Linked DNA regions of Homo sapiens. The protein of the gene in region 3 purifies or fractionates together with the protein of the main gene of each other region. This does not show direct contact. Each region holds a gene or a part of one and is shown on either strand. Other genes may lie near its edges. The genes, in order: FMN2, DHX32, AFG2B and CCZ1.

Region 1 (3,574 bases), on a different chromosome or scaffold from region 3:
GGTGTTCTATCTGCCTTGGCCTCCCCAAGTGCTAGGAGGCCTATCTTGATTTTTATATCAGTAGAGGGAAGAACCCACTCTAGGAGTACACATTTTCTCATACGGCTTGGTAAATTGCTACATTGGATTTTTTTAAGGCCAGGAGTAGTTTGATTTCCAGCAGAGCCCCTGACAGAGTATAGATGTCCAGTTAATGTCTGACGAATGAAGGTCAGAATCTGCCTGATACGTATAAAATGTCTTATTATAAAAGGAAAGGGGTTTATATGAATGCTATGCTTTCCCCTAAATACTGCCTTACTGGGTTCCATATATCAGAGAAGAATTTGGCGATGTAAGCGGGGACCAGAACACTGATCTTCAATCATTTTAGATGGGTCTGAAACATCCTTTCTCATGGTTTCTTTAGGCCTGTGGTTTGGATTGAAGTCAAGTGCACCAGTAGCTTCAGGGATGGGTTTTAATGACTGCTTTATGAGTTGAGGATGGGCCTAGTTTTAAGAGCTTTAGGCGTTTGGATATAAGCCATGCGTATTTGAAATGGAGCAGGTACTTTTAGTGCTTTTCCTTCTGATTCTTCTGAAAAGATACAGAAAATATACAGTTGGATGAAGGTAGCAGTAGTTATTCTAACTACGTTTATTCTAGGTATATTTGCAATCCTAGTTTTGCTGTTTAGCTAAGTGAGTCTCCAGTAATTTTTCCTCATATCTATGAAGGTAGAAGAATAATTTCAAATTAATACTATTAAGATGAAATGAAATAGCATACATAAAGCCCCTACAATTCTGCCTGGTACATGAGAGGCACTTAACTGGGGCTATTTGCTCTCCTGACTGGATTTATTATCTTAAAAAAAAAGTCATTGTTCAAAGTGATCAGAGCCAAATTTGTTAAAACAACCCTGAAATTGTATACAAAACTTAGCAGGATATGAACTGACCAGATACTAGTTGAGCCCCAGTTTTGTTTTGTTTTGTTTTTTTTTGCAAATTGTTTATGTATTATTTTTTCTTTTTTTTTTCTGGAATTGTAAGCATTTTGTCACTTATCAGATATTCTGTGGTGGGGGGTTGGATAAGAAAAGCATATGATGGGGTGTGGCTGTAAGATTTGGGGGAGGGTGCTGCTTTCCAAAGAAGGGGTGGGAAGAGGAGGCGGTAGCTGACACCCTCAGTGTTTCTGCTCTGCACAGCATCTGGCTGCAAACCCCTGACTTTGCAGCTTTACCTTCCCACGGTCTCCTTCATAAATGCTCTACTTTACACTGTTTTATGAACATGCATTTCATTTTCCCGACTTTGTGCCTTTGTCTTGCAGCTTTACCCTCTTGGAATACATGATTCGTCTCTTTTGCTTTAGCATTTGAAAAGTGCTGATTGAATTCCGTTTCCTCTTTGTATCTTTTCCAGCCAGACCTTACTGGCTGTCATCTCACTTTCTCTGTACTTTACTGTCTAGATCATATTATATATGCTTCTTGGATTTAGGGATTCTTCTGGTCTTCTTTCTTGCCACCCTCTGCCTTTCCTTCCTCCTTGCCTGTTCACCCGATTCCATCCATCCATCATCTCCTCTCCTACTAATCTGTCCACAGATATCTCTTCCGTGCCTTGCTCTGTGCCTGTCAATATGTGTAAAGCACCGACTGTACTGAGGTCTTGATGAATACTTGCTCATTCACCATTTTTGGCAGTGATATAGACAAGTTGAGTATCCAGGCTTCCTACTGGCAATTAAAACTAGTTGAATTGAAGCTGGAAAATTGCTAACCTTTCTGGGCAGTCAAAATTAATTATTTTCAATGAGGTGTGATTGAATCAATGATACTTTATAGAACTTATGTTGATAGAAGAATAGCTATTCTTGTTTCTGCAGGTTAATGTTAAAATAGTAATGACATTACAGCAACTGACCTTCCAAATATAAATGTTATTGTAATGAAAGAAGAGGTAAAGGGAATAGAGAAAATTGTATTCCTCTGTTCATTCCTGTTTTGTATTCTAAGTACTAACCTAATGCTAATAAAAGTTAGCATTAAGGAACCATTAGGAAGAAACAAAAATGTACTGCCTGTGACTTGATAGTTATTAGATATCATTTTAGTGACAGTAGAAACTTTCTAAGGCTTTTTTATCTTAAAATATATGGAAAATATGACCTCAGTCAGTTCGGAATGGTAGTAAAGCAAGGTAGTCATAACATCAAAATTCTAAGAATGAGTAACAATTATTTCTGGATGCTATAATAAGATGCTAACCACACTAGAGATTTATTATCCTTTTGATACCTACTGCTCCACTATGGGTGAGAAGGAGGGAAGAATTTATGTCTTCTTCCTTTGTAAAGATGTACTTGGAAGTGTTGATTGGATAGGAAAATTACTGCCTCTATTCTGTGATCCAGTCAGGCTCCAACCTACCAGGAACCCACTGGAAGCTTTATTATCTGTTACCCTAGAGCTGCAATGGACTGAAAACAGTCCTATTGTTTTCAGGAGGAATGGAATACTTTCTTGAGAAAATCAAGCCTATATTATGTTTCAAAATTATGCTTAAAAAGGCTTAGGCACTACTCAGTTGAGTCTTTTTTTGTACTTCATGCAGAAGGGTTCTTTGTTGTAGTACCTGGTGATAGAGTGGACACATACAGGAAGAAATTCTGTGTCATTTAAATGGTTGTTTTAGGTACGCAGGAGGGGAAAGAATGTGTTTCAGTAAGCTAGTGTCAGCACTATGGGAAGAGTGCAGGCTGAGAACAATCTATTTCCCTTTTCCGTTTTACCACCAGCTTCCTATTAGGGCACAAGGCAATCATTTCTTGCCTCTTGTTAATACCCTGGCTTCCCAGATTGGAAGAGTGAATGCAATCTTGCTGGGAAGCGTCTTCCTTCAAGTCAATTTCAGCACTGTGGTTCTATAGATATGGTGATTCCAGCAGGTACCTTTTCTCCCTAATAGGGATGCTCTGTGTATTTAGAGCTTTCCTTTATTGGTAGAGCTGAAGAAAATTCCTATGCCGGAAGACCCGTTTATACCACGGAGTAATTGATGGTGAGAGTGGTGATGTTTTGACTTTGATAGTTTTGATCAATTTTTGATTCATGCTGAAGGAGATTTGCATTGGTTAGACTGTCATTATCTGACAATAGGACCGTGTGTGTGTGTGTGTATGTGTGTGTGTGCCTGTGTGTCTGTGTTGTGTGTGTGTGTGTTTGAGACAGGGTCATGCTCTGCCACCCAAGCGGGAGCGCAGTGGTGTGCTCATGGCTCACTGCAGCCTCAAACTCCTGGTCCCAAGCAATCCTCCCACCTCAGCACCTCAGCTTCCAGAATAGCTGGGACCACAGGCGTGAGCCACTATGCCTGGCTAATTTTTTTTTTTTTTTTTTGGAGAGACAGGGTCTCACTATGTTACCCAGGCTGGTCTCGATAGGGCCTTGTGTTTTTGAACACTGATATAATGATTATGTATGATGGTTGATCGTGTGTTATGAAAATGTATGAAATGGAAAGCTATGTTATATAATGTATGGCTCGAAGATTTAGAATATATGAAGGCTTTCTAATATTGG
Region 2 (3,574 bases), on a different chromosome or scaffold from region 3:
GTGAACCCGGGAGGCGGAGCTTGCAGTGAGCCGAGATTGCGCCACTGCACTCCAGCCTGGGCGACAGAGCGAGACTCTATCTCAAAAAAAAAAAAAAAAAAAAATGGGATTGGTTTCTTCAAGCAGTAATACAGGTAAATATGTAAATAGTGTCAGAAAGTTATTTTCATTAAGCTTAGTGACTAATAGGTGGTTATTTTAATTTTAAAAAATCATCCCAAGAAGTATGGGAAAAGCCCATTAAAATCACTAATGACCTCTCCCCACTCCAGGAATTCTAGCCAGTTTTCATGCTGCCCTTAAATAGGTGGTTACTTTTTAGATCCTTCTGTTTGCTTATTATTTGGATGACATCTTAATGATATCATCTCTCACAGTGAATCACCAATAATAGTGTCTGTCCTAACAGTGGGCTAGCAGGACCATGAGCCTGAGCCAGGATGGTTATTCTTGTATCCTTTCCTTGAAAAGTGTATAATTTTACTCAAAATTCTTTCATTGATGAATTCGAGAGGAAAAATTGACCAGGGTGTTTTATGATACTACTTTTTATGTATAAAGCTCAGAACAAAAGTTAGATGCAGGCTTTTATTAATATTTGTAATAAACATTTAGGCAGAGGTCTTTAACTTAGGGTTCAGAATGGTCTTTGTAGGGGGCAGTCCATGAACATATACAAACTGGGTATAAATCTTGTTTATCTGTGTTTTTTTGTGCTATAATTCTGTAGATTGTATCAACTTAAAGGAATTTTGGCCCCAGTAAAAATTTAGAGTTACTGATTTAGAGAAATGAATATAGGAAAGGCATTTTTCTTGTTAGGAAGTTTTTTGCATGAGTTAGCATAAGAATATTCTAACTTTAATGTTTCTTCTTTATAGGTATTGTACTGATGATATGCTGCAAAGAGAAATGATGTCCAATCCTTTTTTGGGTAGCTATGGGGTCATCATCTTAGATGATATTCATGAAAGAAGCATTGCAACTGATGTGTTACTTGGACTTCTTAAAGATGTTTTACTAGCAAGACCAGAACTGAAGCTCATAATTAACTCCTCACCTCACCTGATCAGCAAACTCAATTCTTATTATGGAAACGTGCCTGTCATAGAAGTGAAAAATAAACACCCTGTGGAGGTTGTGTACCTTAGTGAGGCTCAAAAGGATTCTTTTGAGTCTATTTTACGCCTTATCTTTGAAATTCACCACTCGGGTGAGAAAGGTGACATTGTAGTCTTTCTGGCCTGTGAACAAGTAAGTAAGTGATACTCTAACCTTACAGTAATAAGGTATTTCATTTGGGAAGCTTTTAATAACTAACATACAGGTTTCAGTTTGCTAATTAACTGTTTAAATATTTGGTTTCATCACACCTCATTAAATAAAACCTGTGCTGAAAGGAGAACAGGAAGTGTTTCTAAAATCACATGCAGTTCTGAAAACAAAATATGGGTGAGGAGTCTCTAGACATGATCTCCAGAGCCAACTTCCCTCCAGCAGGCTCAGGCCAGAGAGTGGCTGCCCCAAAGGCACAGCTGGCTCTATTTATGCTTGCTGTGAATTGTCTCTTGGTACAGTAGGTGCATGCCGACTCCCCTGACATTCTCCACTGCCTCCCTGTGAGCAGGTGTGTTTGTTGGAGATCAGGACTATTACCTAAGCACTCACCATAGAGTTAAGTAACACAACATTTCCCACAAGCAGTCCTGTGATAGTCAGTGGAGTATGGGCAGAAAATATAGCCCACCCGAAAAGGTCATCTCCCTGGACTGGGGCTCCATTCTTAAAAGATTAAAAAAAAAAAAAAAAAACAAACAAACAAACAAAAAAAAAAACCTTTAACTCAGATTTCTTTAAAACATCTCTTTAAAAGAATGACTGGAAATGTGCAATCAAGCATCATTTCCATTCTGTTACTGCTTTTAGACAGCCAAGGTACCATTTGGGGTTGCATTTTTTTTTTAAATTGCAGCTACACTGGCCCTATTTCTTTCCCCACTACTCTGTTGGCTGAATCTAAAAGCCTCCAGGATCTCCAGAATTAGACCTCTCTTCATGGAGACTAATTGCCTGGCCTTTTTTCCCTGTCTTCTCCCACAGAGAGGAGAAGCATGAGTTTTTAGACCATGACCCATATATGTAGTGGTTCTACTCATTAAACAGAAACCAAAAAGGAAATTATTTGATGTAGGCTGAGCCACAGCTGAACAGATAAGTGGCTCAGCTGTCTGTCAGAGCCTTTTCTTGAACATCCACATATTTCAGAAACACTTTCAGAAGTATTTATTCTATTTTATACTCAAAGCATAAAGGATGACAGCTCCTTCTGGCTTTGGGAACTTTAGTTTTCTTAAATGTATCTGTTTCTAGAACCTCAATATGACTGCATATTTATCATTTTTTGTATGTATATGATATACATTCTCTTGAATAGCAAATCTGCCTATTACAGTGATTTATTCTGTTATCATCTCATCCTGCATGATTCAAGATATTCAAGAAAGTCCTGAGGAAAATAATAAAATGATTACGGAGACATAGGATTTATGAAAACAGTTGGAGGTTCTCAGTGTAAACAGATGAAGCCTAAGGAAGGGAAGAATGGCAAATCTAATATATTTGAGAGTCAGAATTGCCAGGTGAAAAACAGGACGTAGGCCGGGCACTGTGGCTCACACCTGTAATGACAGCACTTTGGGAGGCTGAGGCGGGAGGATCACGTGAGGCCAGGAGGTTGAGACCAGCCTTGACAACATAGCAGGACCCTATCTCAACAAAAAAATTAAAAAATTAGCCAGGCATGGTGGCTCAGGCCTGTAGTCCCACCTACTCAGGAAGCTGAGGTGGGAGGATTGCTTGAACTAAGGAGTTTGAGGCTGCAGTGAGCTATGATTGCACCACTGCACTCCAGCCTGGGTGACAGAGCAAGACCCTGTCTCTAGAAAAAAAAAAAAAATGAAAAATTAAAAAAAAAAAACCAGGATATACATTTCTGCAAGAAAAAAATGCAATTAAGACTGATAGGATGGGTGTAATCCTTCAAGTCAGGGTAAGCAAAAATTCCTAAATGGATTTGGAAATGGATTTTGGATCTTGGAAAATAAAGCTCATAACAGAACTGAGGTGCAGATGGTCTTAGAGTACATGATTCTTATAAGTTTAATATAAACTATAATTAATTGTAGAGTGACTTTTGAACTGTCAACTTTAGAACATGCATCATTATCCAGGCTGGTAGTAGAAACTGTAAATGCCACAGGACTTGGAGAGGTATGTAATTTCCCCTGAAGGCAGGCTGGAAAGGCATTCCTATTAAGAAACCATCAGTCTTGCAGTCTTAAAGTGAGAGTGCCATGAAAGCTACCAGAGGATTTTGTAATTCTGAGCCTCTGTGACCCAGGCGGAGCACTGGACCCTCTAAAGGTGAGCTCCTCATTGTTCAGGGGCTCAACAGCCGACCTGCCCTGTGGGTGGGGCAGCAAGCCAGCCACTGACATTGGGCTGGCTTCAGCAGACTTTACCTGGGCACCAGGTTTCTTTCTCCTGCTTCAGCCTTGGATTCCACAGGTGTTAT
Region 3 (3,574 bases):
CTGGAGTGCAGTGGCATTGAGGCAACAGCTCATTGAGCCTCGAACACCTGGGCTCAAGTGATCATTCTATCTCAGCCTCCTGAGCAGCTGGGACTACAGGTGTAAGCCACTGTGCCCAGCCTGAAAGTTTGATGAGGAGCAGGATATCTCAAAGTGTCTCCCCACAGATTTCTCATTAGTGGCAAAGGGAAAAATAGCAGTTCCACAGTGGAGAAACTGCGCACTGCCTGAACTAGTTGATAAAAGTTAGCATCACCAATGAGGAACCAATGTACACTCTGTGCCTCTACATGTGAGGCTCTAAGGACACAACACTATACATCACCATACTGTGGTGACATATGGGAACATTTCTGTTCTTAGGAAATAGACATTAAAATGTTAAGGGATAAAGTGTCATGATATATGCAACCCATTCTCTCAAATAGTCCAAAATAAATAAATACTATGTGCATATAAATACATATATATGGAGATGACAGAGAGAGAGAGAAAGAGAAGAGGAGAGGGAGCAAGGAGAGCAAAAGAGAATGATAAAGCTTATTTGGCAAAAAGTTAAAAATTGGTGAATTTGGATAAAGGGTTTAGTGGAAGTTCTTTGTAACTATCTTGCAACTTTCCTATAAGTTTTAATTATTTCAAAATAAAGACAATAATTTTAGAAGAAATCAAGGTTGAACATCTTTCATGTTTATTGTCATTCCTTTTATTGTCAACTACCTGTTCATACCCCATTACCCATTTTCTCTTGGACTGTTGGTCTTTTCTTACTGATTTGTAAGATTTGTTCATTCCCTATCAAGGAAATTGGACTAAAAGTATTTTTCCTAGTCTGACTACTTTATAGTATTGTTTTGCCACCCCCAAATGGTCAACTCAGCAAATAATCTCTTTTTTGGCTATTAAGGTTTATGTTATGCCTAGAGAAGTCGTCTTCACTCTCAGGTTATATTTTGGAGACTCTTTACATTCTCCTTGATCATTCTAGTGAAACACATTTTTTTTTGTTAGTTAAAAAGTCCTGAAAATTTTATTAAAAATATCTGTACTGTATTTATTAAAGTATTTGCCCTCTTATATCCAATTCTAAACATCTAGTTGTCCACAAATTCCCGTTTTCAAAAACAAACTGTCTTTTCTTATTTGTAAACAGATGTTAAGTGAATCTGTATGTATAGAGCTATTCTGTAAAGTATTCTCCCAAAAGTGTTAACAATTGTCATCTCTGGAAAGTGAGATTTCAGGTAGGCAGTTCTTTATAATTTTCTATCTTCATTTCTCATGAATAACCCTATTATATACTTAAAAAAAAGCCTTTTTAACTGGCTGATAGTATGTTAGGTGTCTGATGTCCAAATATTAACTAATCTTTAGGTAACACGAACTAATATTTGAAAATCTCATTTATAGTTCAAGATCATGTGTGTACACATTATTTTACTTGATTCTTTGGGCTTATACATTCTTTCCCCTCTGTGTGTGTCTGAGTGTTAAACTACAGTTCTAATCCTTTAATAGGAATACTTCACAAAAAGTTTAACAAAGTGTAAGGTATCCCTTATCTGCCCTGGTACAGGGAGAGGTAGCAGCAGCCCCTCAGCTGGTGGGGGAAAGAATAAAAGATGGAGCCAGTACCTTCCCAGTTGTCTGTCCCTTCATGCTTTTTGCCTTTCTTCCTTCCACTTCCCCTGGGTTGTTTCTGAACTCAGCCATCACCTGTGGTAACTACACCTGAGCAGGCCCCTCCTGAAGTAGCAGTGGGCTCCACCCTGGGACGACAGCAGCTGACTGGTCCACCTAAGTGAGAGGTGCTTATGGTCAAACCTGGAACTTCAAAGCAGAGGAAATCCTGAATGTAAATCTCCCTTCCCATCTCCTGCTTACTTATTGTCTCCCTCAAAAGACATCTATTCTCACATCTTTACACACAGAACTTTAAAACTTCAAGTAGTTTTGGTCTAAACCTACAAGATGAAGACTTAAAAGATCAACTAGAAGATCACATAACTCCTCCCCACCTTCGGTGTAACTGTAGAAATAAAGGAAAGGAAGTGAGGCAAGGTATAAATTATTTAGGTAAAAAGGTTTTTCAAAATTTAGGATAATAAATCATTCTTTTGCAGTTTAAGATGAAAAGACAATTTTGATGTTACAAATGAGATTGAAAACTCTGTTTCAGAATCCTTAGCCTGCTGAAATCAGTTTTTTCCTGAATGGGTTTAAGGATTCAGGACTATTTATTATATACAAAATACTGGATTTTACAACCAACAAAGTTGAAAAGTATTATATTTAATCTAATATCTTAAATATTGTTAGGAAATAGTCATGAATTACAGACCTGCAGATCAAGGACAAATTTAAATACAATTCCAAGTGCCCAATCTTCTCCTAGGTTAGAAAAGCTTATTTCTCCCACTAGATACTTATTAATAACAAAGGGAAAAACGGTATCTTGACAATGGAGAAATCTCACAGACACCACCTTAACCAAGAAATCAAAGTTAACTTCACCAGTGATAGAACAGAAACATATCATGTGCTGCCTAACAGATGCAATGAGAAAGACACAGGATCATTTCTATTATATTCCTGCCCAAAATGCAAAACCTGAATTGAATCATGAAGAAACATTAGTCAAACCCAAACTGACGAATATTCCACAGAATAACTGACTCTTAAAAAGTTATGTTTTCATAGAAGAAAGCCTGAAGTATGATTCTAGATTAAGGCCTATTTAGGTTAAGTACAAGTATTATGTCTGCGTTAATTTTCTCAGCTTGATCATCATACTGTGGTTAAGGTCCTTGTTTTTCAGAAATATACACTTACGTTTTCGCGGGTAAAGGGGCATCATGGATGTAGTATATGCTCAAATATTTCATTATATATATGTATATATATAAGGAAATACACATGAAGAGAGAATGATAAAGCAAATGTGGCAAATGTTACATTTGGAGAATCTAGGAGAAGGGTATATGGAAACTCTTTGTACTATTTTTGTAACTTCTAAGTCTGAAATTGCCTCAAAATAAAAAAATTCAAATTAAAAAAACTCTTTGATTCTTCTGGGGCCACACTATTTCTTGGCTGCTCTGGGCTTCAGCACTAGGGAGTTACTATAAGAGTAGGGAACAAATTCACTCAGTAGACCCAGAGGACTCAGCCCTTTATCCCCACCCTCAATCATATACTATTTATATAGAGTTGAGATGTAAAATGTATAAGCAACAGCTGTGGAAGCTATCAAATGTTCTAAGGAAAATGTACTCACCGCTTTTTTTTAACCCCCAAATTAATCTGTTACAATAATAGATTAACATAGATGTTCATAAATTAACACTTCTTACCTTCTCACTATGAAGGAGGGCATGCATGGCAGCCTCCCTACAGAGTGCTGTCAGGTCGGCACCAACATAGCCAACTGTCATTTCTGCAAGAAGGCCCAAATCAACATGACTGGAGATGGGCATCTTCGAGGTAATCACTTGCAGAATTTCCTTTCTTTGTTTAAGTGTGGGAGTCCCAATGACCACCTATATGCAAAGCAAAACAAAAAAAAGAAGAAGAA
Region 4 (2,233 bases), on a different chromosome or scaffold from region 3:
AGGCGACTGCGTTTTACAGTGATGTCCACTGGGGATGATATGAGGGAAAGCTTCGTTACATAGTGTCGTAGGCTTCCCTCATGAGGCAGGTTAATTTCCACGGGACACTCATTCCCCGCACTGTGGGAGGAACGAGGTGTTACTCTCCTCAAGCAGGGGTCAGCAGACTTTTACGGTAAAGGACCCAATAATAAGTATCTCAGATGTCACGGGCTGTATGTAGATACGTGTTAAAACTACTCAACTGTCATTTTGGTGGGAAAGCAGACAGACAACACATGAACATGTGGCAATGGCGAGGTTCCCGTGAAACTTTGTTTAGAAAAAGAGGGCCAGGGCCGGGCGCGGGGGCTCACGCCTGTAATCCCTGCACTTTGGGAGGCCAAGGCGGGTGGATCACAAGGTCAGGAGATCGAGACCATCCTGGCCAACATGGTGAAACCCCGTCTCTACTAAAAATACAAAAATTAGCTGGGCGTGGTGGCGGGCGCCTGTAATCCCAGCTACTCAGGAGGCTGAGGCAGGAGAATCGCTTGAACCAGGGAGGCGGAGGTTGCAGTGAGCCGAGATCGTGTCACTGCACTCCAGCCTGGGCGACAGTAAGACTCCATCTCAAAAAAATTTTAAAAGAAGAATCTAGTTGTATCCGGCCCGAGTGCTACTGTCTTCGTGACATGTTTTCACAGGTCTGAGAAAGAACCCCAGTTTAAGTTTATCTACTTCAACCACATGAATCTCGCCGAGAAGAGCACAGTTCACATGAGGAAAACGCCCAGCGTGTCGCTCACTTCCGTGCACCCGGATTTAATGAAGATTCTCGGTGACATCAACAGTGACTTTACCAGGTGATTCCAGCCACTTCTCCAATCAGGCGTCCCCTTTCTAAGACGAGAAAAGACACAGAAAATCCCTTCAAGCCCTTTCCATGGGGTTCAAGCGTGAACCACCTTCATGGGCGCCGCTTCCAAACAGACCCGGGAGCCCTGAAGTCACCGGTTCCCTCGCGCGGCACTCCCTGAGCCTTTTAAATGCCACGTGCGCCCGTTCCATTTCCTGTTCTTGGTTTGGAACGCTTATTCTCACAGTCTGGCCGTATGAGTAACGAACGATTGCATTTTGACCCTCGTCTTGCAGAGTGGATGAAGATGAGGAGATCATTGTGAAGGCCATGAGTGATTACTGGGTTGTTGGAAAGAAGTCTGATCGGCGGGAGCTCTATGTTATTTTGAATCAAAAAAATGCAAACCTGATTGAAGTAAATGGTAAGTAGGATTTGGTATTTCAGGAGAATTTGAGAAGTTGTCTTTTCATTGCATTAAGAAACATGGTTAAAAAATAGGTAAATAGAACAAATCATGACTGTTGAGATTCTAAGCAGGTGCCTCTGCTCCACATTTGATCCATTTTCTGTTCCTTGGAAAACTATGACAAGACCTTCCTGTAGCACAGGAAACTTGGCAATGGCAGAAAGAAAATTATTTTCTACAATTCTAAAAAAAAAAAAAAAATGACTTTATATTAAGAAATGTCCCCCTTTTTTTGGAGACAGGTTCTCACTTTGTCACACAGGCTGGAGTGCAGTGGTGCAATCATAGCTCACCACAGCCCCCAACTCCTAGGATCAAGCAGTCCTCCCACCTCAGCCTCTAGAGTAGCTGAGACCACAGGCATGTATCACCAAGGCATGTGTCACCAGACCCAGCTAATTTCTTTTTTTTTTTTTGAAACAGAGTCTTGCTCTGTCGCACAGGCTGGGCTCAAACTCCAGGCCTCAAGTGATCCTCTGGCCTCCCAAAGAGCTGGGATTACAGGCGTGAGCCACCTTGCCCAGCCCAAAATGTCCTTTTTTAATATCCTGTGATAAAAACATATCTTTTGTAGGGAGAAGCTGCCGGGTTCACGTAGCCGTTTACAAGTATCCCTCTGTACACAGGCAGAAGGAGGCAGACATTTTCTCCTGCCTTCCCGCCAAAGCGGCCAGCCTTGCCCACTGCACGGGGTGACCCGGCAGCTGCGGTGCTGATAGCTCGGCTGCCCTGGAGAGAGGGGACCTCACCTCGGCAGAGCTGCCCCCTTGGGAGATGCCCCACGTGTACACTGTGTGGAAATTCAGTGTAAGCGTTTTTTTCCCCTTGTATCTTGGGCATACTACATTTTTCTCTTTATTAGTAATACCTGTGTTAGTCATTGTGCGCACTAGAAACATCAGTTAATGCAAGCCTGATCTAAACTG

The links.
Region 1: the proteins of AFG2B (region 3) and FMN2 purify together in Homo sapiens (affinity purification with mass spectrometry; 2 studies listed by BioGRID and IntAct, with this or other methods). This does not show direct contact.
Region 2: the proteins of AFG2B (region 3) and DHX32 purify together in Homo sapiens (affinity purification with mass spectrometry; 2 studies listed by BioGRID and IntAct, with this or other methods). This does not show direct contact.
Region 4: the proteins of AFG2B (region 3) and CCZ1 purify together in Homo sapiens (affinity purification with mass spectrometry; 2 studies listed by BioGRID and IntAct, with this or other methods). This does not show direct contact.

What each region holds. Positions count from the first base shown.
Region 1 is NC_000001.11:240,098,337-240,101,910, forward strand, and holds part of FMN2 (formin-2), read left to right. Parts: intron 1-3,574. UniProt on the Homo sapiens protein: Actin-binding protein that is involved in actin cytoskeleton assembly and reorganization. Acts as an actin nucleation factor and promotes assembly of actin filaments together with SPIRE1 and SPIRE2.
Region 2 is NC_000010.11:125,857,283-125,860,856, reverse strand, and holds part of DHX32 (putative pre-mRNA-splicing factor ATP-dependent RNA helicase DHX32), read left to right. Parts: intron 1-881; coding exon 882-1,254; intron 1,255-3,574.
Region 3 is NC_000015.10:45,405,285-45,408,858, reverse strand, and holds part of AFG2B (ATPase family gene 2 protein homolog B), read right to left. Parts: intron 3,540-3,574; coding exon 3,354-3,539; exon of another isoform or gene 3,347-3,353; intron 1,831-3,346; exon of another isoform or gene 1,636-1,830; intron 1-1,635. UniProt on the Homo sapiens protein: ATP-dependent chaperone part of the 55LCC heterohexameric ATPase complex which is chromatin-associated and promotes replisome proteostasis to maintain replication fork progression and genome stability.
Region 4 is NC_000007.14:5,922,701-5,924,933, forward strand, and holds part of CCZ1 (vacuolar fusion protein CCZ1 homolog), read left to right. Parts: intron 1-686; coding exon 687-845; intron 846-1,134; coding exon 1,135-1,262; intron 1,263-2,233. UniProt on the Homo sapiens protein: Acts in concert with MON1A, as a guanine exchange factor (GEF) for RAB7, promotes the exchange of GDP to GTP, converting it from an inactive GDP-bound form into an active GTP-bound form.